Linked DNA regions of Homo sapiens. The protein of the gene in region 1 interacts with the protein of each later gene in a biochemical or structural test. Each region holds a gene or a part of one and is shown in the gene's direction. Other genes may lie near its edges.

Region 1 (12,235 bases):
GTGATTTGAAATCCAAATGTGGATACAAATGTCTACTTTTTTTGTTTGTTTGATTTTGAGACAGGGTCTCACTCTGTCACCCAGGCTGGAGTGCAGTGGCATGATCTCGGCTTACTGCAGCCTTGACCTCCTGGGCTTGGGTGATTCTTCCACCTCAGCCTCCCCGAGTAGTTGAGACTACAGGTGCCTGCCACCACGCCCAGCTAATGTTTTGTATTTTTAGTAGAGATGGGGTTCCACTATGTCACCCAGGCTGGTCTTGAACACCTGAACTCAAGGAATCCACCCGCCTCAGCCTCCCAGAGTGCTGGGATTACTGGCATGAGACACTGCACCTGGCCACAAAAGTCTATTTAAGAGTACAAATGAGGGAAAAATAATCTAGTTTTGCCAATTATATTATCACTAAAGCTCTTATGTTGTTGTAAAAAGTCACCAGACATATTGTATAATGTCACATCCGTCTTTCTTTCTTTCTCTCTCTCCTTCCTTCTTTTTTTTTTTTTTTCTTTCTTTCCTCCCTCCCTCCTTCCCTGCTTCCTTCCTTCCTTCCTTCTCTCTCTCTCTCTCTCTCTCTCTTTCTCTTTAGAGACAGGGTCTTACTCTGTCACCCAGGCTGGAGTGCAGTGGTGTGATCATAGCTCACTAAAGCCTTGAACTCCTGGGCTTAAGCCTCCTCCCACTTCAGCTTCCCAAATAATGTTGAATTTAGATGATAAGTTTACACAGGTCTTTAAATTCAACCAACTCTCATCCTATGGATTCAGAGACAACAGCTGACTATCCAGGAGATAAAGATTCCTGGCTGTTCCTTCTCACAATCTTCTTTGCTTATTGGAAAATGCTGGAGTTACCCCAAATTCTGTCCTGTTTCTTTTTCTTTCTCTCATTTTAATCCTTCTTGAGCTTTTTCAAATGTGTCATGTTTAAAAGTGGACTCATCCTTTCTTTTCTTTTTTTTTTGTTCTTCTTTCTTTTTTTTTGAGATGAAGTTTCGCTCTTGTTGCCCAGGCTGGAGTGCAATGGCGCGATCTTGGCTCACCACAACCTCCCTGTCCTGGGTTCAAGATATTCTCCTGCCTCAGCCTCCCAAGTAGCTGGGATTACAGGCTACCAGCTAATTTTGTATTTTTAGTAGAGATGGGGTTTCTCCATGTTGGTCAGGCTGGTCTCCAACTCCTGACCTCAAGTGATCCGCCTGCCTCAGCCTCCCAAAGCGCTGGGATTACAGGCATGAGCCACCATGCCCGGCCCATCCTTTCCTTTCTAACCCAGTTCCTGGTTGTCCCCCTGCTGAGTAGACAGCACCAGCCATGGCCTCAGCCAGGCACCCCACTCTCCCTCACAGTTCACATTTTCAGTGAGTGCTAGGCTTTCTACTTCCTTCTCTCTAATTCACTCTTCATTTTCTCCAAACTCCTGCTATCCCCCAGGAACAGGGAAGCATCCTCTCTTGCTAGATTATAGCAGGAGCCTCCCTATCTCCTGAGATCATCCAGGCTGATCTTGCTAAATGTTCAACTCTGTTCCTGTCTTGCCCCTCTTTAAACCATATACTTCCATAGAATTAAGCCCAGGTTCTTTTGTCAATTGTTTTCCTTTTTATTAATTAATTAATTTTTTTTTTGAGATTGAATCTTGCTCTGTTGCGCAGGCTGGAGTGCAATGGCGTGATCTCGGCTATCCACAACCTCTGCCTCCTGGGTTCAAGTGATTCTCCTGCCTCAGCCTCCTGAGTAGCTGGGACCATGGGCACACACCACCATGCCTGGCTAATTTTTGTATTTTTAGTAAAGACGGGGTTTCAGTGTTGGCCAGGCTGGTCTTGAACTCCTGACCTCGTGATCTCCCCACCTCAGCCTCCCAAAGTGCTGGGATTACAGGTGTGAGCCACTGCACCCAGCCTTATTATTTTTTAGAGATGGTGTCTTGCTGTGTCTCCCAGGCTGGAGCGCAGTGGTGCGATCATAGCTTACCTCAGCCTCGAACTCTTGGGCTCATGCATTCCTCCTGCTTCAGCCTCCTGAGTAGCTGGGAATACAGGTGTGCACCACCACATCTGGTCAATTTTTAAATTTTTTGTAGAGATGGAGTCTCACTATGTTGTCCATTCTGGTTTTGAACTTCTGGCCTGGAACCTTCCATCGATCCTCCCATCTCTGCAAGCCTAGACATTTAACATGGTCTAGAAGGCCTCCATGAGCTCCATCTCACCTCTTTTTTGCTCCTTCCGCTCCGGACCTTTACAAGTTGTGGCCATTCCAAACTCCTTTCACTTCTGATTATCTCATGTTCTCTCTCACCTCCCCGCCCATGCAATGAGGTTCCTCCCCAACTAGATTCTTATTCCTCTTAGATTCTCAGAGAAGCCTTCCCTGAAAGAAGCCGTCTCCCATCTCCCAGATTGGGTTAGGCTCCTCCTGTGTGCTGACTTCATTGTCTCTCTCCAACATTGCTTAGAACGCTAAGTTGCAACTTTATGTCTAATTGATTGCTCCACTAGTCCATAAAATCTAGGAGGAAAGGGCTGTATCCTTAGCCCTTGACACATGGCCTTGTACATCTTAAGTTTGCATATGAACCGCTTTATTTACCTGGGATATTATCTTACTTAATCCCCAAGACAACCCTATACGTTGTGCATGATTATTCCAATGGTCATTACTGTTATTTTAAATAGAGATGGGGGCTCACTATGTTGCCCAGGCTGGTCTTAAACTCCTGGGCTCAGGTGTTCCTCCCACCTTGGCCTCCTAAAGTGTTAGGATTACAGGCATCAGCCACCATGCCTAGTCGATTATGCCCCTTTTAATGGATGAGCAAAGAGTCGAGGTTCCACTGGTTTTCCACTGCAGTGTCTCTGCTGAAGGATTAAAAAAAAAAAAATCACAGGGCTGTGCTGGACTCCTGGGACTTCCAGAGGACAAGTCCCTCTCTTCAGTGAGGCTGACCTACACAGAGCCAGCCCTCCTTCCCCTCCCAGCCACAGCTGTGTGTTGGAAAGCTAGAGGCCTGGGCCCCTAATAAAGAGCAGACCTCCCAATCTCCTCGTTCCTTCCCCCTCCCCTCATATGGTTTTTCAAATTAAAAGCAACTAAAACCAAAGACCTAAGGAGCAGGAGAGGGCAGAGGCACAACAACATCCCTAAACTGAGGAAGGGGGCTCTCTAGCGAGGGAGGGGGTATCCAAAAGCCAGATCCAGAGGGTTCCAGTCCTACCAGTCTGTCCCAGGCTCTAAGGAGTGTATGGCCCACCGGGCTGGGCTGGACCAGGAAACAAGCTCTTGTCCTCAGGTCTGTAAACAGGCTGCGTTGTTAGGAACCCTCTGCTTCTACTTCCTGAAGAGCAAGCCCCCCAAACCCAGAAGAGAGGCTGCACCTTGAGATCCAGCCAGCAAGGTGGGTGCGGAGTCCTGGGGAGGGAACTTTCACCTCAAGCTGCACAGACCCATCTCGATCTTTTTAGAGAATTCCTCCTTTTCCAGGACTAGTGCCGTTCTGAATTCTGAGCGTGCAAAGAGACTCCTTAGAGCTAGCTTCCGAGCCTCAGCTGGGGCAGACCAGAGGCCAGGGCGTCTCTCTGTCTGCGGGGACCCCCCACATCTGTGCGTCACCTCCACCACCTCCGGGCAAAGGACCCTTCCTCGCTGGACCCAGGGAGGCGGCTATTCCAGATGCAGCCAAGGGTTAAAGGGGGTGGGAGAAGGAGCAGTTAGCACCGTTTTCTTTTGCAAACCACCAAACGGGCCCTTCATTTTCAAATTGTGAAGCCAGAAACATCCCCCGTTCCCTTGCCCCGCCCATCACCATTTGAAAAAAAGAATTCACAAGTTTAAACGTGATTTTCACAACTAACGGCTTTGATAACTGTTAAATTCGTACGGCTTCTAGGGCAAACGGACCTGAATTCTTCAAGGAAAGTAGAATTGGCGGTGGAGCTGGGGGGCAGAGGAGGAGAAGACACAAAAAGCCAACTCAGTGGGAAGCGCCCTCAAAGCCAAAGGTGTGGCGCTCGGAGCTGTGGCCGCCCTCGCCCGGGAGTCGGGGCCAGGAGAACGGGCCCTGGAGGCAGGGCAGGGCACGGCGAGATTTTGCTTTTGTTTTTAGTGACCATTTTGATCTGGTTGTAAAAAGTTTACGAGGCCTTCTTTTTGAAAGTCAGCTAATCGACTGCACCTTTTTATACCCTTGCCCTCAATTTCATGTCGCCTGCTGGCCTAGACGCGCAAGGCGGAGGACAGAACTGTCACAGTCCCTACCCTTTTCTCCCAACTTCTCGGCCCGGCTCAATTCGGGAGTTGGGCCTCCTTCCTCTCGGCTCGCAGCCTCCCCGACTCCCACTTTGGGGAGAAAACCCACATTCTTAACCCCTTGATAATCCCTCAAGGAAAAAACAAAACAAAAAACCCCAAGAGGTTGAAAATTAGAATCCGGGCGCGGGTTGAGATCTGCGCAGAGCTGCCCAGGCCAGTGCATGTCGCTCCTCTCCTCCGGGTACATATGGTGGCCTGGTCCCCTCCCCCCACCCCCCACACGGTGCCCAGTGAGAAGCACAAGAAGGGGAGAAAAGACCCGCAGCCCGCCTCAGGAGGGCAAGGTTTCTAGCCCCCTGCGGCTCCGGGACCACCCAGGACCCGGGGCGTCGTGGGACCGATCTCGAAGGATCTTAGAACGACACTGGGAGAGCGCGGCAAGAACTAGCCCCACCTTCCCCCGACGCCCCGGACTGACTGCCGGGCGCAGACCCGACTTCTCCCGAACCAGCCTCGGACCAGCCTTAGAAGGCGGAAAACAGGATTCAAACCCGCCTATGAGCAGTGGTAGGGGCGGGGGCTGTGGGGGCAGGACTCGGTTTAAGGAACCAACCGCCTCGGTTCGAGGGCCTCCTGTCCGGAGGTTGCTCCTGACCACTGGGTTTATTTTGCTTTTGCAGAGGAGGCAGATGTTGACCTCTCTTCTTTGCACAGTCTCTCCGCAAAATTTTCCCCCAACCATTTGCTTTCTTGCGCCACCCCCCACCGGGGCACTATCCCTGGAGTCAGCTCCTCAGGCCTTTAAACCTTCCAGAATGTCACACATGGAAACCTTTAGCAAATGTTTGTTAATGATCATAACAAAGGCATCATTCAAATTAGGCAGGTAATTACTACCAGAAGGACAACTGGGTGCTCGCTTGCTCATCCATTGCTTTCTGCTTTAAACTCCCGAGGAGTCGCTGCCTGGAGACACTCCCGCCCGGACTGCTTCTCGGGCCCCATTAAACGGCTCTGAAATGAACTGTGAAGTTACCATTTGTGGGCGGAGAGCGCTGGGGCCCTGCGGACGGAAGACCCTGGCTTGACCGGACTAACAGTGTCGCCGAAGCAAAGCAGCCCCTCTGGGTAGGCTGTCTGTCTCGCCTCCTACCCTCTGGGGCAACTAGCCTAAAAACCCGGTTCTCAACTTAACAGCATGTGGCCCAGCACCCGCTTTTGCCTTTTATTCCGCACTCTGATTTTTGGGGGGATCGTTTGTTCCCGCTCATTTTCTACAAACATTACGGTATCCTGTTAGCATTCCGAACAAGGGGCTGTTCATATATTTGCCTTCAATGATTTCCTGAAGGGACATGTGGAAGTAATAGCGAGCGGTGCAGTCACCCAAGCTGAAGATGCACGAGAGCGGGTCGCGTAGAAGAACTGCGGCAATGGGACCCCCAGCGCAGCCCCAGGCGCCCTGTTTTCGAGGCTGACATCCCAAGATCCTGTCCTGGTTAGGCACAGCACCGCGCCCGTTGGAGTACTTCTCTGTGACTCTCCCCTGTCCACTGCACTGTGTCCACCCTCCTGGTGAAGGAGGAGACGGCTGTTGGACATGCCAGTCCCAACCTGGCCACTTTGGCCATTTTCAGAGTGCGTGTGTTGGGGTGGGGTTGAGGGAGAAGGATGAAGGATGACCCCCAACCCCAACAGGAGAATTCAAAAATCAGAGAGCGATGAAGGTGAACGCGCTCCCCTCCCCCGCTGTCGCTGGGAAGCCCCACTCTGCCCAGGTCTGGTTCCTGGAGCATCAGCGCCCCCTTTCCCTCGCCGGCAGGATCGTTTCCTCCCGACACTGGCCTCTCGCCTTGGGCGCAGGGTTTGGGGCTCAGCTGTCAATTCCAAGGAATTCGTAGGGTTCGACCCACGCGGCGGGAGGGAACGGAGGGAGAATCAAAAGGCATCCTCCCCCACGACGCGGAGGCGGTGGTACGATTCCTCAAACGCCCAAGCTTGAGCTTTTTTTGTATGCGAGATAGAAGCCAGGGCAACCTCGCCCAGATAACCCCGAAAACAAAGGCACGACCAGATAAGTGACTTCAAGGGAGTAAAGGTCGTTCTATCGGAGAACGTTCCAAACCTACACAGACCCTCTTTTCTTTGTACCGTATTTCAGACCACCCAGTCTTGTACACACACACACACCACACAAAACAAAAACCCATCATTGTCATATTGGACTCAACAGTTTGCCCAATCCTATTAAATAACTAGCAACTATATAGCCCTTCCCCTAAAAGACCCCTAGTTCAAAACGGCGCAACCGCTTGGAGATTTCTCCCGAGGGCCCTATTTCTCGTTGGGCCGAGTTTGTAGAAGGGACATTTCTTGATTCTAGATTTATATTCTCTCTGGGTATTAAATGCAATTTTGTATGTTCCTTTTCTTCTTTTCAAAGAGAATACAAAACTATAGCAGTCTAAGAAAATAACCCCAAAATGGGGAGGCAAACTCATTCTGGAAATGATGGGCTGTTTGTAGTTTCACAAAACCTCTTTCCCGGCAGAGCACCAACACCTCCCCCTTCCACCACCCCCCATCCCATCTGGTCTGCTTCTCCCCGCCCCCCAGTTGTTGTCGAAGTCTGGGGGTTGGGACTGGACCCCCTGATTGCGTAAGAGCAAAAAGCGAAGGCGCAATCTGGACACTGGGAGATTCGGAGCGCAGGGAGTTTGAGAGAAACTTTTATTTTGAAGAGACCAAGGTTGAGGGGGGGCTTATTTCCTGACAGCTATTTACTTAGAGCAAATGATTAGTTTTAGAAGGATGGACTATAACATTGAATCAATTACAAAACGCGGTTTTTGAGCCCATTACTGTTGGAGCTACAGGGAGAGAAACAGAGGAGGAGACTGCAAGAGATCATTGGAGGCCGTGGGCACGCTCTTTACTCCATGTGTGGGACATTCATTGCGGAATAACATCGGAGGAGAAGGTAAGGGAAAAGAAAAAATGATTTTTTGTTTATAAGGGAAGTCCCTGATCAGACTCTGGGACTGGAGAAAGCGAAGTAACTTCAAACTTTGGGCGACAAGAAAAAAAAAAAGGAGCTGGATTCCAGTTGTGTGTCCAGAGAGTAATTTTTTTTTTTCGGAATAAACTTCACTTGGGGACGGGTGGGAGATAACCATAGAGTTAGAAAGTCTAGGTATTTTTTTTAAACACACATTTTCCAGACCTATTTTTAAAAACAATGTTTTTCTAACAACCCTATGGCCTCCCAAAGAAATTGTTTAGGCTTACATTTTTGAGGTTTCTTTTGGGAGTGGGGGTGGTGTTCGTGAATACTGGGCCGAACACCAAGGAACTGGGGGTGGAGGCAGAGGTGTTTGCCCTCTTCTTGGCAGTGGGTCCTGGAAGGCGACAGGTTTTAAATGAGTGTTTTCATTCCTCGCCTGCGGTTTGGCGGGACAGCGCTGCAGCCCATGGTGTGGAGCGCGGCTGGGGGACCAGGGGGAGGTGGGGAGAGGGGAGCGTGGAGGGGAGCGTGGAGGGGGGCGCGCGAAGGGGTTGCGGGGCGCAGGAGGCGGGCTGGGCTCGGCTGGAGACCGGACCTCGGTGTTGGCCTACAGCACAGGGAGCCGGCCGAATGCGCGTGATTACTGGACGGCGCTGCTCTGGGAGAGAGTCGGGGCCAGATTTGGCGCGGCGGTGAGGCGGCTGCGGGACAAGCAGAGGCGCGCGGGCGTGGGCAAGGGTTTGGGGCGCTCTGGAGCGGTTTGTTGGGTCAGTGAGGTGCCAGGGAGAGCGGGTGCCTGCCGGGCAGTGTGCTCGGGTTGCACGCCCTAGCGCGGGGGCGACAGCGGCGGCGCGGGCGGGCGGTCTGGAATAATGACAAACACATTTGGCCCTGAGTGAAGAAGTCGTCGTCGCCTCGCATTCCAGCAACTGGGATTTGAGGAATTTCGAACCGCACACCAAGGGGCCCTCATTGTGCTCCGTGGCCCCCGCCCCCGCCTGTCTTCCCGCGCCCCCTCCTCGGTGGAATCATTTCTGCATTGCCCGGGGGCTCTGCTTTCGCTCAGTTCTGGCCGCAGGCAGGAAGAGAGGAAAGGTCTCCAGGAAGGTGCCGAACTTCTTGTGAGGAAGTTAGGGACGACTTGGAACTGGGGAAACTTGTTTGCAGGTAAGACAGAAAGGTGGGAGGTAAACCATATTCTCCCTCCGGGCACCCGAGCCCTGGACACCCCCTACCCGGCACCCTTCTCCGCGCGGGGGTGCGTGGCACTTGCCGTCTGAGCTCGCCCAGCGCTGCTCGGTCCTCTCTAGTTGGCCTTTTTTCCATTCCTCTCCCTGCCGGCTTCAGAGCCGTCTGTGCGTACTTCTCCTTCCTCTGCTGTCTACCCCCATGGAAACCAGATTTACACACGAAATTAACTCCGCCCGGCTGCGCCCAGGGAGCGGGCGGCGTCCATTTGGCATTGAATATGTGGGATCAGCTGTTCTATTCCGGGAGGGTGTCGGCCAGGTCGGAGCGACGAGTGTGGCCCAACCCGAGTACGTTGCCAGAGGGAGCCAGGAGCCTGGGCCGGGCCAGGTGTGCGAGAGCTGCCGATGGCCTGGCCTCGCGTCTTGGTCGGGAAGGACTTGCTGGCCTGGCAGGCTGTGCGTTGTGCATCCCTCCCGCAGCCAGAGCGCCGGTCCCGCACTTCGCTCCCCGAATTGTGCTAAGACCTCAGGATGTGCGCAAGGAGTGCCTGGAAGAACTTGCCACTCACTCCATCTTCCTGGGTGGGAGGCAAGCATGGATGGGGCCCATATCAGGTCCCTACCGCCCCGCGTCCGAAAAGCCGCGGGCTGGGCGGTGTGGGAAATGGCTTTTTGGCTCCGAGGCCAAATTGCTCAATGTTTTGGACCGACTCGCCTCGCCGCGGTCGCTCCTGACAAGAACTAGACAGATTTTTGGAGCAGGGAGCATCCAGGGCAAACGCACGACAGTCCTCCGCAGTGCATCTCACCGGACAAACATCCCCGGAGCCACAGGAGGGGAGGAAGGGGCTCTCCGGGCGTGCGCACCTCCCCAGCCGCCGCGCTGTCCCATCCCCGACCCCTAATCTGGTCAACCTGGACCCCGGCACTGCTGAATTGCATCCCCTCTTCTCCCTTTCTCCTCGGCCTCCTCCTTTCCACAACCCTCAAGATGAGGAGGCCCTGCCTCGACTCCCCGACAGGCGCAAGGCCGACCAGGCTCGCTTTGACGCCCTGGTCAGGCCCTGCTTCGGAGCTTGCAGTTTTGGGTTGACCCAAGTGCAGCTGGACCTCGTTCACAAGAGTGAGGGGAAGCCAAGAATGAACCCGTCGTTAGCCCCCGGTGCCCTGGCTCTTGTTTAAATCCTTAGATCGAGAAGGACTTGAAGGAGATCCCAGGCTCCCAGCTCTGCGCCCCTGGGCCAGTTTCCTCTCGGGACGCGGACTGAGGAGGGATGCAGGGGGAGGGGCATTGGGCCGGGCTTTCCAGCTGCAAACACGTCTGGCGCCGAGGCGGGCCCATTTTGTGCCTCCTGGGGACGGACCGTGGGCGGCGCGCAGCGGCGGGACGCGTTTTGGGGACGTGGTGGCCAGCGCCTTCCTGCAGACCCCACAGGGAAGTACTCCCTTTGACCTCCGGGGAGCTGCGACCAGGTTATACGTTGCTGGTGGAAAAGTGACAATTCTAGGAAAAGAGCTAAAAGCCGGATCGGTGACCGAAAGGTGTGGGTCTCAGGGTTCCCCGGGTCTAACTCGCCGGGTCCAACCGCAGCATCAGCCTTGGGGCGGCAGATAATCTTTCGGTCTCGCCTGGGGCGCAAGATGCAGGATCGGGGGCAAATGGCTTCTCCCAACTTCCCCCTAATTCGGGTTCTGCCAGATGGTTGTCGTTTGCTGAAGTGGCTCGGCGGCATTTCCTTTTGTTTTAAACTGATCAATGAGCGAACCTGGGATGGGCTGAAAAAGTAGATTGTAGGAGGGAATAATGGGAAACCCGACTTGGGGCGCCTCCTTCCCTGCCTCCTACTGCAGTTTCTCGGCCCCCGCGAAAGGGGAGCGACAAGCGCGGGTGGGCGCGGACTCTTGAGGGGGCAGAGGCGGCTATGGCGCGTGTCGGGCAAGGTGGCACCAGAAGGCACTTTTGTGTGTGTGTGTGACAAGAGTCTCGCTCTGTCGCCCAGGCTGAAGTGCAGTGGTGCGATCTCGGCTCACTGCAACCTCTGCCTCCCAGGTTCAAGCGATTCTCCTGCCTCAGCCTCCCGAGTAACTGGGATTACAGGTGCCCGCCACCACGCCAGGCTAATTTTTGTATTTTTAGTAGAGACGGGGTTTCACCATATTGGCCATGCTGGTCTCGAACTCCTGACCTCAGGTGATCCGCCCACCTCGGCCTCCCAAAGTGCTGGGATTTACAGGCGTAAGCCACCGCGCCCGGCCAGGAACGGTTCTTAAATGCCGAGAGGGCGCATGCTAGCTCTCCTCAGCATTCCCGGTGAGCCGCTACCCACGGCCGTGCGGCTCTCGTGCCCATAGGAGGCGCTGGCGAGCTCCTGTAACCCTAAACCCCTCGGCCCCTTTCCCCCCACCCGCCCGGATTCTCTTCCCGCTCTCCCCCCTCTCTCCACACCCGCCCGGCCCCCTCTCGGGTCTCAGTTGAAAACAATGCAAACGCAGAGCGTCGTGCCTGGGGCGCAGCGGCCTCTGCAGCTCTGAGGTTCAGAGCGCGGCGCGCAGGGGCGCAGGGGCGCAGGTCCCCGGAGCGGCTGGGCATCGCCGCCAACCCCGGGACAACCAAGCCGCCGAGGACTTGGTGGAGGTGGGAGGGAGAGCGGACCGCGCAGTGTTCCTCTGGGTCCCGGGGTCAGAAGCCGGACAGTGGCGGGGGCTGGACAGTCCGAGCGCAGAGCCTCCCGGGCGAAGTCTGCGCGCAGCACTCCCGGCTGCGCTGTCGGGGACCAGGAGCCTGGGCTGCGGGCGAGCTAGCTGGCGAGCCGGGTAAGATTCGCGGGGCTGTCGCGCCCTCTAGTGGGCTCCGGGGACGCATCCCGCTTTCCCCAGCCCCGGGCGGTCGGCGCCGCTATCTCAGTGGAGCGCAGCGCTGGAACCCCGGGGGCCCGGAGCGGAGGCTAATCTGGGTCACCTTTCCCCTCCTCCGGGCAGCCAGTGGACTCCTCGCAGGCTCTGTGTGGGCCCGGGAGGCGCCGGGTGGACGAGAGGGGGCCGAGGTCTCTGGGTTTGGATTGAGAATGGGACGTCCTTGTAATTCAATGTGGGAGAAGCAGGGGAGTGTGGAGGAGGACGGGTCCCGTGCGTTCTTGGGGGGCAGGCGCCGTCTTCTGCGTTCCAGCCCCTCGCCAGCTCCCTTGCCCCGCGGGCGGCCTGTTGCTGTTTGTTTGTTTTACGACCCTGCGTTATTGTGCAACGGTAACAGTCGTTTCCAATCAGCTGCGCGGCCGTCGCGGCCCTCGCCAGGCTGGTTTATGGGGGCGGCGGTGGCGCGCGGACAGATAGGACAGCGCGGCCCGGGAACGGCGTCGAGGTCCAGGCGGTCCCCCTGCCCCGAGGGGGCGGAAATGCTGAGGTGGCGAGAGCGTGGGTTGCACAGAACCCTAGTAGCGAGTCCGGCTGAGCCTCTGCGGCCTAGCCCAGCAGCGTCGTCTTCCCGGCTCCGAAGACGTCTTCCCGAAGCCCCGCTGCCCCGGCGCACCAGCTCCCGGTGATGGGGATGATGATGGGGATGATGGGGAGATGTCCCCGAATTCTCCTGGGGTCCCGAGGAGATTTAGCCATTTTCAACAGCAGTTTTCCTATTTCTGCTTAAACCCCGCGGGCTTTCAACTGAGGTCACCACGAAAGCTAAAAGTACAACCTAAGGAAGGAAGAGACTGGAAATTAACATTTGGGGTAGTGGAGCTCAGAATTCCTCGCAGCGGCGTCTGTGTCGCAACCCGTGGACGCACGTCCTTGGA
Region 2 (11,040 bases), on another chromosome or scaffold:
TAGGGATGGAGATTCAACGCTGTGTGACTCTGGGCAAGGGGCTTCCCTTGTCTGTGCTGTGTGTTCTCATCTCTAGAATGGACCACGATGGTGTCCTCACAGGGTAGCTGTGAGGGTTACAGTGACGGGCACGTGCGGTCCAGTCAGGTGTCTTTCATGGCTAATACTCTGTCTTGGAGCCTTGAAAGGGTCAGGCCGTAACCTGGAGTTGGGGTGGGGTCCCCCGCAGGGAGTGGCTGTCCCAAGCCCTCCTCAGGGGGTCTCTGCAGCTTCTGGGCTTTGTAGCAGTAGGGACTCGGCATCCCAGGTCTAGAGGGGTGACGGCATCCCTGGGTTGTAGTCTTGGGTGAGTTCGCGCCGGGAGTGTTGAGGTGGGGCGGCTTACGACGCAGATGAACTCAGCCGTGGGGAATCGGAATGTCTGGTGTGATAAGGTGCAGCCCACATCTCTGGGACGGAAAAAGGGGAGGGACATGGGGACCCCCCCCATCACTTGGGCTTCGGCTTGGGGCCTGGGGGCCGGGGTACCCCCCGTGGGGGTCCTGAGGACATTGTAGTCTGTTCTTTGGACTTGGCCTTCTTTTATGGAGGAGGTTTTTGTGAGAATCCAATATTCATTTTGTGTTCTTGGGAGAAAAATGTAGCTATTTCCTGGCCAGACAGAGGTGGCGGAACGGCCCGGAATCCTGGCATACTCAGAAACAGGTGCAATCATCGCTGTTTGTTTTTGTTTGATAAAAACGGGCTTGTCTGAGGAGGCAGTGGGTTCCCAGACGAGCGGCCGTGCCATGTGCCTTTCGCACGGTGCCCAGAGGGGTGGCATTTCTGTTGTGTCCTGGGAGCCCACGCGCCCGCGGTGGCCGGCCATCTCGAGTGGTTGAGAGCGAGCCTGCCCCTCGCCTGGGCGTCTGGTGTCTGGCCAGACGGGCCTGCGGTCTCTGCCGAGCCAGGCCCTGGTATCTGCCCTGCCGAGGGAACTAGGTGAGGCTGCTTGTTGACCAAAGAGGCTGTGCCATCCGGAGGGTCAGGGCCGGGAGCAGAACAGGGCGCCCTGCCCGAGCCCATCCCCACGAACCCAGATTTCAGAGCCCACCTGCCCCATGCCTCACTTGGCCACCCCTGCAGAGGCTGGGGGTGGGTGGGAGCAGCAGAGTATGGGTGCTTCGAGCCTGGGAGATGGCAGGGTGTGAGGCTGGTGCTGTTCCTCCTGCTGGGACCTGTGTCCAGGGCCTCCAGGGGAGGGGAGGAAGGAACTCGGTCCCTGCTGAGGCAGGAGGGGGCTGGGCCTGGTTTTGCGCACTGGGATCCCTAGTTACTTACTACCTGGGCAGTTCTTGACTCAGGGAGGGCTGAGGACATGCTTGCAGGGCTGGGGGTGGCTGAGGTCCCAGGTGGCCCTGCTGCTCCTCTTGGGGCTTTGCTGCAGTTCATCCTCGGGCCGGGCCTCTCCGACCCCAGGCCCTCAACAGGAGGGTGGCTCTAGACCCACTCTCTGCCTGTGGTGGGTGGGTGGTGGTACTGTGCTGAGCTTGGGGACCAGGGGGTGGGTTGGTTTTGGGGCTCTGGATTAGAATCCACGCCAGTGGCAGCCCACTCTTGAAGGCTGGCTTTGTCCTCGTTTCTGGGGCCTTCTGCATGTGCAGCCTCATTTATTCCTCAACTCCTGGGTGGGTGTGATTGGTCTCCGTTTTACAGATGGGAGGTGGAAGTGTGTGCACGGCCTGCGGAGGCCTCTCTCTGGAGGATTCTGTCCTGGGGAAAGGGGCAGATTGCCGCGGGAGTGTGGAGGCTGATCTGAGGCCTCCCGAGTGGAACGGAGCCCCATGTAGGAAGCGGCAGTGTCCTGGCCGCTTTCTCTCACGCTTTGTGACGTAGCGAAACCTCCCAGGCCAGGTCCTGTTTCTGAGCTGGCTCCTGACCCCAGGCGCCCCACGCCCTGCAACTGTTGAGCTCATACTTGGCTGTCTGCTCACGCCCCAGGCAGCCCAGACCACTTCACACGCCTGCAGGCACCCTTTGCACTGTGGGTTAACCATTAACTCAGCCTCGGACAAGCCTGGTCCCCAGCGCCTTAGGGACCGGCTTACCTTCGGAGCCTGCCTGGTCCCAGGGTGCAGAGCTGACCTTCTCCCTGGGGGCCCTGCTGATGCCCAGTCTCCAGAGTCTGGAGTCCCCCCTTCCCCCCAAGAAGGTTGGGAAACATTCCCCTCCTCCCTCCTTCACCCTCCTGACTGCCTGGGAGGCAGGGCCACTGGGCTGGGGGCATCTGGCCTTGGGCTGAGGTCTCCTCATTCACCCAGCAGCGTGCATTCCCCCACGCCCCTGTGCTCAGGGGGTGACCCGGCCTCCGTTTCCTTTCTAGCCTCAGTTTCCCCATGAACCGTGAGGGGTGAAGTGGGTGATCCATAGTGGCTGTTCTTGCATTTAGACCCTGCATGCGGCAGGGCTGGTTCCGTGGGCACAGATGGAGCGCCTGCTGGGTGCTCAGCTCCCCAGGGCCTGGGAGGGCAGGAAGGTGGTGGCTATTCCCTGGTGTGTGCTCCAGGGGGCAGGTGGGACAGCCTAGCAATTAGGGACAGGCTTAGTTAGAGCTTGCCTGCGCCTCAGTTTGTTCTGTAAATGGAGGTGCCAGTCTTGCCTCCTTGTAGCATGGTTGGGAGGATGAAATGAGTGCTGGGGTTTGGGCTGGGAGAGCCAATACTCTACTCATGCAGTCCCTGGCTGTGTATTAGGGGTCTGTTGATGCCAGGCGTGTGCGTGCTTGCACTCTGTGTGTGTAGTAAGATTCCCACGATGGGGCCCCTGTGTACATTACACATGCATGACTGGTGGGGGGTGGAGTTGCCTCCCCATGACAGGGTATGTGTGTGCATTATACAGGTGTGTGTGTGGGGTGGAGTTGTGTTCCCGTGACAGGGCCTATATGTGCATTATGTGTGTGTGTGTGTGTGTGTGTGTGTGTGTGTGTGTGTGTGATTTCTTGCCTCTCTTGTTGAATGCCTGAAGCTCCCCTCTCTGGCCTGGACTGGGCCATTGTCTGCCTGCAGCTCCCCGGGGAAGGGGCTGTGGAGGCAGGACCCCCATGTTGTGGTTTTGTGCCTGGAGAATTGAGGGCAGGCGTGGCTCGCAGACAGGCAAAGTCCAGTCCGAAGAGGGGAACCCAGCTGAGGTCTGGTTCGCTTTTGAGCTGCCTGTGCCTGATAGCCACGGCCTGCTGGCCTGTGCTCCTCCTGGATCATCTTGTGTAGCCTCGGTGATGGCCCAGGATCCCTGGCCCTGGTTTCCGAGGTCAGGCCTCTCCGAGCCCAAGGAGAGCCTCGGACCTGGGGGAGCCATGAGGGGACCCTGGGTATGGGTCTGCTGGCCCTGCTGCCTGGGGCCGGCGGGGAGGTGGGGCCCTCATCAGGCCAGCAGCTGGGATTATCATCTGGACGCTCAAGTCCACAGCAACCTTGGGCTAGGATACAGCCACGAACCCCCCATTCCTAGGCCATGGCTTTAAATTTTTTTTTAATATTAATAGAGACAGGGTCTTGGTGTATTGCCCAGGCTGGAGTGCAGTGGTGTGATACCAGCTCACTGCAGCCTCAAACTCCTGGGCTCAAGCGATCCTCCTACCTCAGCCTCCCAAGTAGGCTGGGACTACAGGTGCCACCATGGCTTGCTAATTTTTAAATTGTTTTTAGAGGCAGGGTCTTACTATGTTGCCCAGGCTGGTCTTGAACCCCTGGAGTTAAGTGATCCTCCCGCCTTGGCCTTCCAAAGTGCTGGGATTACAGGCGTGAGCCACCATGCTCAGCCTGGCTTTTAAAATGTATTTAAAAACAACGTGATCATTTGAAAACATTTCCCAGCTGCACATCCACACACAAGCAAACACTTTCCCTGGCCACCTGCACCCCAGAACTCCCAAACTTCCACACCTTAGCAGTGTGCATCCTTCAGCCCCCCCAGGCACACGTGAACCTTTGGGTTTATTTTAAACAAAAATAGGATGAGTCTGCTAAATACCATGCTCCAACACCAGGCGCGGCGGCTCTCACTTGAAGTTCCAGCACTTTGGGAGGCTGAGGCAGGAGGATCACTTGAGTCCAGGAGTTCAACATCAACCTCGGCAACATAGCGAGATCTCATCTCTTCCACACAAAAAAAATATTTAAAATTAGCTGGGCATGGTGGCCTGTGCTTACAGGTGGGAGGCTGAGGTGGAAGGATCACTTGAGCCCAAGAGCTTGAGGCTGCAGAGGCTATGATTGGCCTAGGTGACAGGGTGAGACCCTACTCAGAAAAAACTAAAACACACACACACAAAACTGCACTGCAGCTTGTAGGTTTTTCACCTGGTACTGCTACACTCCCCACCACAAGGTAGTGTTTCTGGGAGGAGGTCAGGGGTCAGGCTGCTCTCTCCTCCCTCTCAGCCTGTCCCCGGCTCCCAGCACGTCGTGATGTCCGAAGCTCCATGCAGGCATTCATGGCCGGGCTCTGTTCTCTCTGGCAGGTGGCCAAGGTGGAATACGTCAGGAAGAAGCCAAAATTAAAAGAAGTCCAGGTGAGGTTAGAGGAGCATTTGGAGTGCGCCTGCGCGACCACAAGCCTGAATCCGGATTATCGGGAAGAGGACACGGGTGAGTGGCTGCCTTCGTCGGCATCGGTGTTGGAGAACAGGTCTTCAGAGCCTTGCTTTTGGGGTGTTAGGTGGCCCCCTTGAGCGCAACGCTTACTGCTGTGAGCATCTGGGCTGCTGTTGAAGGATTCGTTGCCCTGCTCCCGGGCCAGATGCCTGCGGGGGAGACGGATCCCACACCTGCAGGTGTCCGGTGGGGAGGGTGGCCCAAGCTGCGGCACTGGCAGGAGAGGAGATTCAGGTCTCACTGAGAGGGGCTGGGAGTGCATAAGACACCCAATTCATTAGTGGGCTGCGGGGCTGAGCTGAGAAGAATCTGCAGAAGGGCCTCCTGCCAGGGTGGGCGGGAGGAGCAGGTTCGAGGACTGCAGTTGCCCTGGCTGGCTGGGGTCTCTCCTTCACCCCGCCACGCGGACTCCACCCAGGAGCAGAATGGCTTCTGTGCCCTGCTATGGCTGGGCCCTGGGAGCATGAGGGGACTCAGAAGTTTCTCGGTGCCAGGGTGCTGGCCTTCTCTTCTGGAAAGATAAACAAATGCCGTAGGTATTTGTTGCTTCAGTTCTTCACCCCGACGGCCGTCCCTCGGCCCACTCACCGCCCTGCCCTTTTGTTAACAGGAAGGCCTAGGGAGTCAGGTAAAAAACGGAAAAGAAAAAGGTTAAAACCCACCTAAAGCAGCCAACCAGGTAGGACTGTCTGCCGGACACACTGAGTCCTGCAGGGCGGGGAGGTGCAACTGACTGATCACACCAGCAAATCACGCTTCCTGTCTCGCCGGGTGCGGCGGGGATGTGGCCCTGATTGGCCTTGATGGTGTCTGCTGGGCTTGGGTCTCCTTGCTCCCCGTCCGCTCCTGCCTCGCAGAACGCCCTGGCCCGTGGCTCACTCCCGCTTGGGAGCCTGCCTCCAGCTTTGTCCTTCTCTTTGTCGTTGATTGGGGATGCAGGAGCATTGCACATGAATGGAACAGGTTGGGCGACCTGAGCAGCGGTGGGGCAGCTCTGAGCGCCTGGCCACTCTGGGATCACCCACCCCATTTGACAGATGAAAAAACTGAGGCTTAACTGAGATTACAGATAAGGACTGTTGGAGGCTGAATATATCTGGAAATCCTTTATAAACGTGCAGGGCTGTTGGCTACTGTGTTGGAAATTGCATTTGGCTGCTAGTAACACCAGACAGCACAGGGATTGAGATAAGATCGAGCTTCATGACTTTCATCTAAGGGTGGGATTGCAGAGCAGGGAGGGTAGTCTTGAGGTATCATCAGTGTCCGCCTTCTGTCTGGCTAGTGGCATCCATCTGCAGTTGCCTCATGGCCCAAGGTGGCTGCTAAAGCTCCAGAAACCACATCTGTGCTCCAGGCTGGAAGAAGGAGTGAGCGGGGGGGGGGGGGAAGGGCAAAATAACACCCTTAGAGAGCTATCCTGGAAATCCCACCCAGTGACTTTTGTGTTTTTCTCAGCTGCCATCCCTCCACTGCAAGGGAGCTTGGGAAATGTCTCCTAGCAAGACATGTCGCTTCCCAGATGGAGGTGGGACCTGGGCAGCCGCCATCATCACGGAGGAGGCAGTTTCAAGCCTTCCTGGTCCTTGGCATTGGCCCGTCTGGCTTGGGAAAGTTGGAGCCCTGTCTGGCCTGGTTCCCCCTCCTGGCACGTGGGACTCCATGGTGGCCAAAACAAATAGTTTCTTTAGAAGAGAGGAGGATCTCAGAGATAGGGTGTCTGAGAACCCTGGCTCCTGTTTGCAATGTGGGACTTGGGCCTGCGGGTGAGGTCCATTCATGAGGAGCCTCTTGGGAGGAAATTGTCCACTTGGGCGGGTCTTTGAAGCAGTCCAGGACTGTTGGTCAGCCTTGGCTTTGTTTGCTGAAAGTGTGGCCTGGTGGGTGGTTTTGTGCCTGCCTGTGGGTCCCATTTCTACAGAGCGTTAGGCTCTGGCCTCCATGGGCCTGCTGGTGACAGACCCCATGGTGAGAGGCTGGCACTCCTGTTGTCCCATGCCTGGCTGGTACTCATGTTCAGCCTATAGGCAGCCCACGTGTTGGAGTGTGCGATGGAGAGGCCACATGGGATGTGGAAGAATTGTTCTTAAACGATCAGCATAGGTCTGCCTGGGTGCAGACTCTTCTGTCTGGCTGGTGGCCTCCATCCTCAGGGTTGTCTCATGGCCCAAGGTGGCTGCCAGAGCTCCAGAAATCACATCTAAGCCCTAGGCTGGAAGAAAGGAAGGCAGAGAGAAGGGCAAATGAGCCATTCTTGGCCTCAGTTTCCCCCATCTGTACAATGGGAGAATGGGGCTTGGTCTCTAGACATGTTCTGTGAGATGCTGTGAGCCTAATCCCAATTCCTGTCAGGGTACTGCAACATGGCCAATGTGGCAAATGTGATTCTGGAAATTTCTTGAAAACTTGAAATCCCTGTGTGCCCCTGATTGGGTTAAATGTTTTCACCCTGTTTTCCTCCTATGCAGCCATGTGTGTGCTGGGTGGTTCACTTGGTCGGTGGTCTCAGTGTCTGTCTTTCCCTTCTCCCTGCAGATGTGAGGTGAGGATGAGCCGCAGCCCTTTCCTGGGACATGGATGTACATGGCGTGTTACATTCCTGAACCTACTATGTACGGTGCTTTATTGCCAGTGTGCGGTCTTTGTTCTCCTCCGTGAAAAACTGTGTCCGAGAACACTCGGGAGAACAAAGAGACAGTGCACATTTGTTTAATGTGACATCAAAGCAAGTATTGTAGCACTCGGTGAAGCAGTAAGAAGCTTCCTTGTCAAAAAGAGAGAGAGAGAAAGAGAGAGAGAAAACAAAACCACAAATGACAAAAACAAAACGGACTCACAAAAATATCTAAACTCGATGAGATGGAGGGTCGCCCCGTGGGATGGAAGTGCAGAGGTCTCAGCAGACTGGATTTCTGTCCGGGTGGTCACAGGTGCTTTTTTGCCGAGGATGCAGAGCCTGCTTTGGGAACGACTCCAGAGGGGTGCTGGTGGGCTCTGCAGGGGCCCGCAGGAAGCAGGAATGTCTTGGAAACCGCCACGCGAACTTTAGAAACCACACCTCCTCGCTGTAGTATTTAAGCCCATACAGAAACCTTCCTGAGAGCCTTAAGTGGTTTTTTTTTTTGTTTTTGTTTTGTTTTTTTTTTTTTTGTTTTTTTTTTTTTTTTTTTACACCATAAAGTGATTATTAAGCTTTCCTTTTTACTCTTTGGCTAGCTTTTTTTTTTTTTTTTTTTTTTTAATTATCTCTTGGATGACATTTACACCGATAACACACAGGCTGCTGTAACTGTCAGGACAGTGCGACGGTATTTTTCCTAGCAAGATGCAAACTAATGAGATGTATTAAAATAAACATGGTATACCTACCTATGCATCATTTCCTAAATGTTTCTGGCTTTGTGTTTCTCCCTTACCCTGCTTTATTTGTTAATTTAAGCCATTTTGAAAGAACTATGCGTCAACCAATCGTACGCCGTCCCTGCGGCACCTGCCCCAGAGCCCGTTTGTGGCTGAGTGACAACTTGTTCCCCGCAGTGCACACCTAGAATGCTGTGTTCCCACGCGGCACGTGAGATGCATTGCCGCTTCTGTCTGTGTTGTTGGTGTGCCCTGGTGCCGTGGTGGCGGTCACTCCCTCTGCTGCCAGTGTTTGGACAGAACCCAAATTCTTTATTTTTGGTAAGATATTGTGCTTTACCTGTATTAACAGAAATGTGTGTGTGTGGTTTGTTTTTTTGTAAAGGTGAAGTTTGTATGTTTACCTAATATTACCTGTTTTGTATACCTGAGAGCCTGCTATGTTCTTTTTTTGTTGATCCAAAATTAAAAAAAAAAATACCACCAACAAAACCCGTGGACGTGAGAAGCGTTTTGTGGTACGTTTTTCTAGCACTGAGTCTAGACCCTGGTTGCCAGGTCATGCGGTGCTGTGTTGGGTGGAAACGGAGGTCAGAGCTTTCTGGGTGGGGTCCCTGGACCTGCCTCCATGGTGGCACCCGTGGGATGCCTGCCTACCTCGGACTTCAGCACCTATGGGGGTTAGGCCGAGGACATCCTCCTGCAGGCTCCACTCCCTGGAGCGGATGAGGAGTGTCAGAGTAGCCAGAAGACCATGAAGAGTTTCATCCAAGAAGGGAGCCCACCTGTCTTGGTGTGTCCATGTGCAGCACTCACCATACCCTGCCCGGGCTGGCCCCTCCACCACCTCCAGGCCCACGAGACAAACCATCGAGGTTGCTTTCAATCTTGACCCCGCGTTCTTCGAGGACCATCTGTGGACTGGCGGCCGGCTGGCGTCTGTTGTCCATGTGCTGCTGGAAGGTTCTTACGAAGGATTATCTTCAACAGCTCATCTTCATGGTGCTGTTTTCAGCCTCGTCAGGGCAGCCTGGAGGCTGGAGGGGAAGTGCAGGGCCAGGTGGTTGCAAGCTGGTTCCTGTTCCTTGGACACCTGCTGGGGCCCTGCCTGGGCCTGTGGGCTGCTGTCCAGATCTGCACCGGTTACAGCGCCTTGCCCAGGAATGTGCATTGGATGTGACGTGTGGCAATGTAACATGTATTTGTTTCCATGAGATGCTGGCGACAATGCTCCATTTTTCTTTTTTGTATAAAGTCGTCTGGTGTAATACCGTGTCCATTAAAGTGATGGGGCAGAAAAGCCAGGTGGGGAAGAGAGAATTCCATAAGAATTCCATAGGTCTGGAGCCCAGGGGTGGCTGAGGTAGCAGTAGAGGTGGGAACTCAGGCCTGCTTTCTCTCCCTACTTACTCCTTCCCTCCCTCACTCCCTCCTTTTCTCCCTCATTGGTTCATCCATGCAGGCGAGGGCCCTAGTGCCAGCCCCTCCTGTCCCGACATGGGGAGAGCCCTGGGGAGGGGCAGGCAGAGTGGAGGCCACTCCAGCCAGGAAGGGCTGCAGTGTGGCGGGGGCTGTGGTCTGAGGCTGGATCCTTTCCGAGCCTCTCCACCCACGTGGGCCTGCAGCCTTTGTCGCGGCTCTGCCCTGCGTTCCCGGGATTTCTGCTCCTGCCTGGGCCCCCTCCCGGCCCCTAGCCCTGGGCTGCACCTGGATCTGGGCTCAGGAAGGTGACTTTCTGCCCAGGGTCAGCTCTTCATGTCTTGTGAGCCCTGTGACCTTGACCGAGGGGCCTCCATCTGCATGTCGGCGTGCACATCTGTGAAACGGAGCTGCAGCTCAGGCAGGGTAAGGACGCCTCGCCATTGACTCACCTGGTGCAGGTCTTGTCTGCTGCCTCCTCCTGCTGGGACTTCACTCCAGCCTCTAGTGTTTCTAGGCCCCAGCATGGCAGAGGACAGAGCCCTTGGGCTCAGGGATTGCTGAGCGGCGATGGTGCCGCCTGTTAAAACGAGGTTCCTGCACCTGCCTGGACACCTGAATGCACCTGCTCACACCGTGCCCTTGCCAGGGGTCATGAGAGCTGGGGCCCAGCCTTTGCTGGGCTTCTCCTTTAGCTTGGGGGTGTTTCCTTTTCTTCACCCAGGCCTCTGTGTCCTGGCTGTGGAGGGGGTTGGAACTGGCTGGGAGAGTCAGTGACGGCAGGTGGTCTCCAGCCGTGGGTCCCTACAGCTGTCTTGGGATTCCCAGCGGTAGGTGAAGCCGAGGCCTGGGTCTTTGCCTGGGTCCAGTGCGCAGAGCAGTTGCTGGGCTGGGCCAGGCTCGGGGATCCCGTTCTGCAGAGAAGCCCTTCTGGTTTGTGCCCTCTTGTCAAGCACAAGAAGCCACGGCCCTCCTGGGACCTCCTTGGTTTTTTTGGGCTTTTCATACTTAGCCATGGGTTCCTCCAAGAATTCTAGGGGTGGGAACTTGAGGGCTTGGCTCCCATTTTAAAGATGAGTGAGCTGTGCCCCTGGCAGGCCCGGAACGCCTAGGGGGCCCCAAGTAGAAGGGTCGCAGGACACAGAGAGGCAGGACTTGTGCTGTGGCCGGGCATCCAGGGGCCCTTCCATCTCCTGGGCCTTGACTCTGCCCCACCCCAGGGGTGGGCTGGGCCCCAGACTCCGGAGCAGCATTGGGGCGGGAGCTCCCCAAGTGCCTGCAAACAGCAGGGCCAGCCAGGCTCTTCTGGGGTTGTGTCCTGGGCAGGTGCCCAGCCTGGGACTGAAGCTCCTTGCCCTGCACCTATCACCAAAGGGCCAAGATTCACAGAGATTTGCCTCTGCATGCTCCCTGGAAATGGGGTCAGCAAGGACCAAGATACAGACCCCAGGGAAGATGGCGACCTCCAGGTCCAAAAGGAAGAGCAGGTATTTGAACTCAAGTAGCAAAAATCACAGAATTTCCTGCACCCCACAGACCCCCGTTCCCTCACAGAAGCCCCCCATCCTCTCACAGAACCCTGGTCCCCTCGTAGATCCCCTGTCCCCTGACAGATCCCCTGTCCTCT
Region 3 (7,991 bases), on another chromosome or scaffold:
GAAAATATTGTACTGGAAAGAAATGCACCAAAACAATCATATCTTTAGTAATAGAGAAGTACAAACCCAAGACTCTTTTCTTTTTTCTATTCTGTTAATTCTCTGTGATATGGCCATTTTTTTTATAATGAAAGTAATTTTAATATTGGTGATGCAATAGAGGAGAGGATCCCCTCCCCATAACCAAGGCGGGAAAGGGACTAACTAACCAGGAAGATTGAAGTTGGAGCCTCAGCCCTGCAGGCCACCACACAGGCCCCTCCTGTTGATCTGATTAGTCTGTACCTGCATCCACCCCCTTTTAATTTGAATGGCCCAGGAGCACTGCTAGAAAGAAAACATCTCAGAACAGTTTCAGGCATTAGCAAACAGCTCTGCAACCTCCCACTTGGCGGGCTGTACTGGTAACAACCATGGGGAGACCAGTCATGAAGCAGCTAATTTGGTTCACTGCTGTTTAATTGACCAGTGGAATTTTTTTTTTTTTTTTTTTTTGAGATGGAGTCTCGCTCTGTCACCCAGGCTGGAGTGCAGTGGCACAATCTCGGCTCACTGCAAGCCCCGCCTCCCGGGTTTATGCCGTTCTCCTTCCTCAGCCTCCCAAGTAGCTGGGACTACAGACACCCGCTGCCATACCCGGCTAATTTTTTTTTTTTTTTTTTTTTTTTGTATTTTTAGTAGAGACAGGGTTTCACTGTGGACCAGTGGATTTTACAGCCTCCCATCCTTTCATCCTCATGATACCACTGGAAGACGTTCATTGACTCCATCTTACAGACAAGACAGCTGAGGCTTAGTGATGCTAAGTGACATCACCCATGTGTAGGCAGCTAGGAAGGTGCTTCATGCATAGCAGGGCTCGAGAGAGCTTAGGTAAGCGATGTGAGGAACCTCTGCCTGTTCACCATCCAATCCACAGGTGCTCAGTAAATTGCTGTAGGATGCATACGACCGTCCAACACCCTTCAGATCATAAAACAATAGAATTTGAGAGCTGCGACTATAGCACTGCCACTAAGTCACTGTTGGCTTTAAGCAAGTCGCTCACCTTGAGGGGGTTGAACGAGCGTGTTGTGTTGGTCAGCGGTGCCTAGGAACAGCAGCAGCTTGGGCTCAACAGGGAGCTTGTTAGAAATACAGAGCCTTAGGCCCCACTCCAGACTTGGGGAGTCGGAATCCCTGGGGCGATGATATGGTCTGGATCTGTGTCCCCTCTAAACCTCATGGTGAAACATAATCTCCAATATTGGAGGTGGGGCCGGGTGGGAGGTGATCGGATCACAGAGGCAGATCCCTCGTGGCTTAGTGCTGTCCTCACAATAGTGGGAGAGTTCTCATAAGATCTGGTTGTTGTAAAGTGTGGCACTCCACCCCCTGCCCAGCTCTCTCTCTTGCTCCCACTCTCACCAGGGGAGACGCCTGCTCTCCCTTCTCTAGCCATGGTTGAAAGCTCCCTGCGGCCTCACCTGAAGCCAAGCAGATGCCAGCACCATGATTCCTGCACAGATCACAGACCCATGGGCCAATTAAACCTCCTTTCTTTATCAATTACCCAGCCTCAGGTATGTCTTTAAAGCAATGCAAGAATAGCCTAATACAGGTAGGGTCCAGCCACCAAGGTTAACCTGACCTCTAGGGGATTCTGACACATGCACGCACACACCCAAAAGCTTGAGAAGCGGGTGGCTTCTGTGAGTTGAGGCTTCCCCTTGCCACCCCTGCAGGTGGATTTTGAAGACGTGATCGCAGAGCCTGTGGGCACCTACAGCTTTGACGGCGTGTGGAAGGTGAGCTACACCACCTTCACTGTCTCCAAGTACTGGTGCTACCGTCTGTTGTCCACGCTGCTGGGCGTCCCACTGGCCCTGCTCTGGGGCTTCCTGTTCGCCTGCATCTCCTTCTGCCACATCTGGGCGGTGGTGCCATGCATTAAGAGCTACCTGATCGAGATCCAGTGCATCAGCCACATCTACTCACTCTGCATCCGCACCTTCTGCAACCCACTCTTCGCGGCCCTGGGCCAGGTCTGCAGCAGCATCAAGGTGGTGCTGCGGAAGGAGGTCTAAAGCCAGGTGGGGCAACAGCGGTGGCAGGGCAGGGGGTGGTGGGCCAGACTGGTCCCCGGGGGACTTCTTCACAGGGGCTGCTGGCGAGCTCTTTCTCTTTAGGGACTGCTCCATACCCCATGATGGAGCACACGGTGTAGGGAAGCCAGAAAGAAAAGACGGCCCAGCCACAGAAGCACAATGGCCCTTCGCTCTCCCCCAGCCCCACCATGATGCCCCCATGCCTGGGCGTGGGGGAAGATCATTTGCCAAGAGGCAGCTACTGCAAGTCTTTGCGTTCACTTGTACTGTAACAACATAAACCAGCACGCGGTTCCCACCCGGGGCCAACCTCTCCACGCGCACTCAGGAAAGTGACCAGTGACCACTGGCGTTAGGAAGGTGGCTCCAGTAAAGGGTTTTGGCTGCATTTGGGGAATGCTGCATTTTGTTCGTGCCTGTAAGATTGGTTTGTGTCCTGACCAGCTCCAAAAATATACTTCACTGCCCTGAAAAACAGACACAGGGAGAGTTGGTTGTCTCTTCACTTGGCCAAATGTAAGTGAAGAACAGAGTCTTTTTCTTCTTCGGATTCTATTGTTTGCTGGAACCGTACACGTTCCTTGGAAGATCATGTTTAAGTGACTCCTGTTGCCTGAGCACAAAAATGGGCACCAATGGAGGAAAATGACCCTTGGGCTGGCAGGGGCAGTGACCCTTCCAGGGTACCACTGAGGGAAGGGCCTGGGTTCAAGCCTCCCGGAACCTCCCCTTTGGCTAACCGAGCCCCTGAAATGCCCAGTACTGCCATTTGACATGAGGGTACCTTCGCCCTCAGGAGATGTGACGAAGGAACAAGGTCTAATTTGTGCGTGTGTGGACTCACTATGGAAATAAAATGCAGTAGAAAGAGCATGTATCACTTCCTCCCTCCTCACACTCTCTCTCTCTCTCACACACACACACACACACAGTGCCCTTATCTTCTTTAGGGCTGTCTTTTCCGAGTGTGCTATCCAGAACTTAGCCATTAAAAAAGAAAGGATGGGGATGGGTGTTAGCATCTGTGGTCCGGTTCTTTCAGAAATGCTGTATATTTCTCTCAGAGATTTTCAATAGACTTTGGCACATTAAAGGCTCTGACATGTCCTGCAGTAGATAAACCTGTTTAAACCAGTATCCCCCCAATCCTATCTGACCTTTTTTTTTTCTTTTTTTCTTTTCATGCAACGCCCATTTAAGTCTCATATAATTAAAGTTCCACAGCACTTGTCAGGTTTTCGGAGACATTATTCATGCCTGGCCACGAGCCCAGTGGTCTTGGGAGGCAGTGTGGTGAAGTGGACCACACACAGCTTGGGAACTAGGACGCAGGCAGCCTTGGTTCTAGTCCTGCTTCCGCTCCTAGTTGCCTTTTCTGCCTCAATTTTATCACCCACAAATTGATCTCTAATGTGCATTTTGGCTCCAAAATTTTACCCAATTTTGGTTTTCTCCTAACATTGTATGTAAATTTCAAACACAGAAAAGTTGAACAGCTACATACCCATCTTGGCTCTATCATTAACGTTTTTCTACCCCAGCTTTCTTACATCCCTATTCATCTATCCACCCCTCTATCCATCCCACCAATCTCATCTTTACGCATGTTTAAATACGTTGTAGAGATCAGCACATTTTACCCCTAAACACTTCATCATTTAGCCCTTGTTTCTGCAGATGAGAAAGTTACAGTCCAGAGAAGTCAGGAACCTTGCCAAAAGGCACCCACCTAGCCAGCACTATCACTGTGGCTCCAGCCTGCTGCCTGTGCTCTCCCTTGGGGCTCTTCCACATTGTCGGGGGGCTCAGCAGGCCCAGGCTCCTCCCTGCTGAAAAGGACTAAGGCTGATGTTACTTATGTCCTCCTCAAAGGGCCTGCCCTTTCAAACGTCTCTTGAAATCACGAGGCCATCCATTTCAGACTTGGAATCTTGGGTTATGTAGAGAATTTGCCATCTTGGTATTTGCTATAACTGGATTTGACAATGACTCCAATTTTTCAAGCTCACTGTCTTTCTCTAAGGGCAGACTATGGTCGGTGCTTAATTAGCCACAAAGTTCACAGAACTAGAGACAGGACACACATCTGAGATGCATGGGTGTCCAAGGAGTTCTCCCTCCAGGAATCTCCTTGAGAAGTAGCAGGCAGAAAATCACATTGGGGTTATGATGAGAATGGGCCTGAGGCAGGAGGATGGAGTTCCATTCCCTCTCATAAGATACATAGGGGACCACCAGGGACTCCTGTTTGAAATGCAGGTTCCAAGGCTCTAGCTACAGTGTTTGATTCAGTAGTGGGGCCCAGGAATCAGCATGTTAACACAAACTCATTTGTGATGCTACAGATGGCTCCCAAATCCACTTTTAAGAAATATTTGTTAGGGTTCCTTCAAGGTAACAGTCTAGAATCCTATCATCCCCAGAGTTCCACTGTGGTTCAGAGCAGATTCAGGGACATCATACATGATGTTTGTTCCTGAATCTTAGAGCATCTTCCCACAGAACTCTGATAACTGAGTGCACCTGTGATTCCAGAGAATGGGACCAGGGCCCCCTTCCACACCCTGTCACAGCCCATGCATCTGTGCCGTAATCAGGCCAATAACTCTGAAGCCCTGCAGGGATCTGGGGTCTACAAGCCACCAGTTCCAGTCACCGTTCTTGGGAGGAAGAACGGGGGCAAAGCAATGTATGGAAACAAATGTTTATCTAGTGCACTCTCTATCAAGCAGCTAATGAAGCAGACAACTTATGATCAGCCATGTCATTCACCAACTGGCACAGTTACAGAGGGGTGCCAGAGCAGGTCACCACAGTAGAACAAAATCAAGGTGTTCACATTTTGCCTTAAGTGGCGTTTCATTGCTATTGAATACAAAAAGTGTTAAACACTTTGAAACCAGGATTTTCTTAAAAGACAGCCTGCATTGTCCCCTTACATTTCCTGAAGTGGCAACACATAGACTCAAGCCAAAAGAAGACCAAAGTATGTGTCAGATTTTTTTTTCCAGCGCTTAAAGAAATAAGCCTCAGAGTTTCCACGTTCACTTTTGATGATCAGAGCCATGATACATTGCAGAAGACAATCTGCAGCTCCCACTTCCTGGCAACCCCGGCCATGCATATGGTTGTAAACAAGTCTGAAACTGTAGGGAAAGGTGGTTGGCAGACCTCAGGCATGGGGTCTGGGGAGGAGGCCAGAAACAACTGAACCCAAGGTAGCGTTCTGAACCCCTGCGCTCATTCTTCTAGGCTTTAGTTGGGGAAAGACTAAGAAATGGTGAAAATGCTCTCAAGGAGATGGGTGGGGGTCGGGGTGTATATCCAGTGGGGCTATTGAAATTGAATGTCACTTATTTGCCATAAAACAGACTCCTGCGCCATAATAAGACCCAATGTACCCGCCAGAGCTTTCACACGAAGAGAGTGACAAAGCATCCCACTTGGTTCTGATGCCCAAGAGTCTTATAACTCCAGGGTTCCCAGGAAGGCTGTGCTCCTGGTCAGAAAATCTACTGTGAGTTGCTGTCCCTTTGATCCCCAGTGGCCTCTGTTGGCTCCTAGGATGGCAACTTCCCTGGGAACAGCAGAGTCCTGGGGCATCTCTGGCTGGTGGGCAGCGAGGCATGAATGCTAACAGACCCCACTGCTGCTGCATTTGCACCCAGAGCTCACCAGTGCTCCAGTACATGTGCACAGAGGCCCCAGAACTGCATCCTGTTAGCTTCCCAAAGAGCAAGGACTGGCTGGTGTTGACCCTCTTCGTGCATGTCCCAGCAACACTGAGCAATGCTTTGCAGTCCAAAGACGATACTATCTTCAGTCTCCGGGTAGTACTGAAGACCTTGTGCTAAATCCTTAGACTTTGAACGTGGACATTTCAGTGCAAGCCTCTCTTCTCCCAGAACCTCTAGACAATGCTAGCTCATTCTATTGTGTGTGTATGCGCGTGTGTGTGGCTATGTGGCTACTGCAGCATGGAGGAAGAATAAAGTGTGTTATAAAGAGACAGAGTGGATCTGTGGCCTTTGAGAGTGCTCCTGCTGTATCTCAGTAAGTACAAAAATGTGCCTGGAAACTTAAAAGGTGCCCCACCATGCACTCAGCTGGCCAGTCCCTGACAGTAAACCTCTGATCAGTAGTGTCCTGTATTTAGTGACTAAAGGTATTTCTTAGACGTGGTCATGTCCTAACCTCAAGGCTGAGAGGACATTTGAGAACATGTTCACTAGGTAAGAAAAACCTCTGACACCTCTAGTGAATTTCTATTTTAAATAAAACATAACAACCTGCAGCTACAAGGCATCACTTGTGCCTTTACAAAGTAGGGATATATTTTCACTGCTGTTACTTTTTGCCAAATAGAGACATCATCTCTTGCAGTAAAACTGAGTAAGAAAATGATGAGATCCCTCTCAAGCAGTGAGCCACATAGAGAAACAAAAGTGCTGAGAGGCAAGAGATTCCAAGGAATTCATCCATCAAGCTGGCCTTCTCTGAATTCATCTGTTGAATTTTTTTTGTTTATTTTTATTTTTTAAAGTTCATTGGTTTTTAGTACATTCTCAAAATCGTGCACAATCACCACTAATTTCAGAACATTTTCATCACCCGAAAAAGAAACCCCAAACCCTTAGTAGTCATGCCTCATCTCTCACAGCCTCCAGGCCCTGGCAAACGCTAATCTATATTCACTCTATATAGATTCGTCCATTTTAGACATTGCATTTCAATGCAGTCAGACAATATGTGGGCTTTTGCACCTGGCTTCTTTCACTTAGCAAGTTTTCAAGGCTCATCCATGTTGTGGCATGTGTGAGTACTTCATTTCTTTTTAGAGTCTAATAATGTTCCATTGCGTGGACAGACCACATTTTATTTCCCATTCATCAGTTGGTAGACATTTGGGTTGTTTCCACTTTTTGGCTATTACAAATAATGTTGCTATGAACATTGGTGTACAAGTTTTTGTGTGTATGTACGTTTTCATTTCTCTTGGGTAAATACCTAGGAGTGGCATTCCTGGGTCATATGGTCACTCTACGTTTAACTTTTTGAGGTACTGCCAAACTGTTTTTCAAAGCAGGTGCACCATTTACATTCCCACCAACAATTTAAATTTCTACCAGTTTCTCTACATCCTCACCGACACTCGTTCTTGTCCATCTTTTTATTGTAGCCATCCTAGTGATTGTAAACTGGAATCTCATTGTGATTTTGACTTGCATTTCCCTAATGAATAATAATGTTGAGTATTTTTTCATGTGCTTAGTAGCCATTTGCATATCTTCTTTGGAGAAATGTCTATTCAAACCGTTAGCCCATTTTTTAAATTGATTTATTTTTCTCCTTATTGTTGTGTTATAAGAGTTATTTATATATTCCAGATACAAGCCCCTTATCATATATATGACTCGCAAATATTTTCTCCCATTCTGCAGGTTATCTTTTCACCTTCTTGATAGGGTCTTTTCAATCACAAAAGCTTCAAATCTTGATTAAGTCCAATTTACCTATTTTTCCATTGGTTGCTTGTGTCTTTGGTATCATATCTAAGAAACCACTGCCTAATTCAAGGTTACAAAGATCTATGCCTATGTTTCTTTCTAAGATTTTATAGTTTCAGCTCTTATATTTAGATCTTGGATGCGTTTTGAGTTGATTTTTGCACATAGTGTGAGTAAAGGTCCAACCTCATTCTTTTGCACTTGCATATCATTGTCTCGGTGCCATTTGTTGAAAAGACTCTCCTTTCTCTATTGAATTGTCTTGGGAACCTTGTCAAAAATCAATTGACCGTAAGTATAAGTGTTCATATCTGTACTCTTTATTCTGCTCCGTATGTCTATCCTTAAACCAGTAACACACTGAGCTGATTACCTTTATCGTAAATTATGAAATCAG

What was found.
Region 2: the proteins of PDGFRA (region 1) and PDGFA form a complex in vitro, tested with the Homo sapiens proteins (2 studies listed by BioGRID).
Region 3: the proteins of PDGFRA (region 1) and CAV3 form a complex in vitro, tested with the Homo sapiens proteins (one study listed by BioGRID).

What each region holds. Positions count from the first base shown.
Region 1 is NC_000004.12:54,222,183-54,234,417, forward strand, and holds the start of PDGFRA (platelet-derived growth factor receptor alpha isoform 1 precursor), read left to right. Parts: upstream 1-7,110; 5' UTR 7,111-7,233; intron 7,234-7,684; exon of another isoform or gene 7,685-8,424; intron 8,425-9,786; exon of another isoform or gene 9,787-9,989; intron 9,990-10,917; exon of another isoform or gene 10,918-11,261; intron 11,262-11,777; exon of another isoform or gene 11,778-12,235. UniProt on the Homo sapiens protein: Tyrosine-protein kinase that acts as a cell-surface receptor for PDGFA, PDGFB and PDGFC and plays an essential role in the regulation of embryonic development, cell proliferation, survival and chemotaxis.
Region 2 is NC_000007.14:494,704-505,743, reverse strand, and holds the end of PDGFA (platelet-derived growth factor subunit A isoform 2 preproprotein), read left to right. Parts: intron 1-4,501; coding exon 4,502-4,628; intron 4,629-5,244; coding exon of another isoform or gene 5,245-5,300; exon of another isoform or gene 5,301-5,313; intron 5,314-7,169; coding exon 7,170-7,180; 3' UTR 7,181-8,486; downstream 8,487-11,040.
Region 3 is NC_000003.12:8,743,802-8,751,792, forward strand, and holds the end of CAV3 (caveolin-3), read left to right. Parts: intron 1-1,724; coding exon 1,725-2,066; 3' UTR 2,067-2,957; downstream 2,958-7,991. UniProt on the Homo sapiens protein: May act as a scaffolding protein within caveolar membranes. Interacts directly with G-protein alpha subunits and can functionally regulate their activity. May also regulate voltage-gated potassium channels.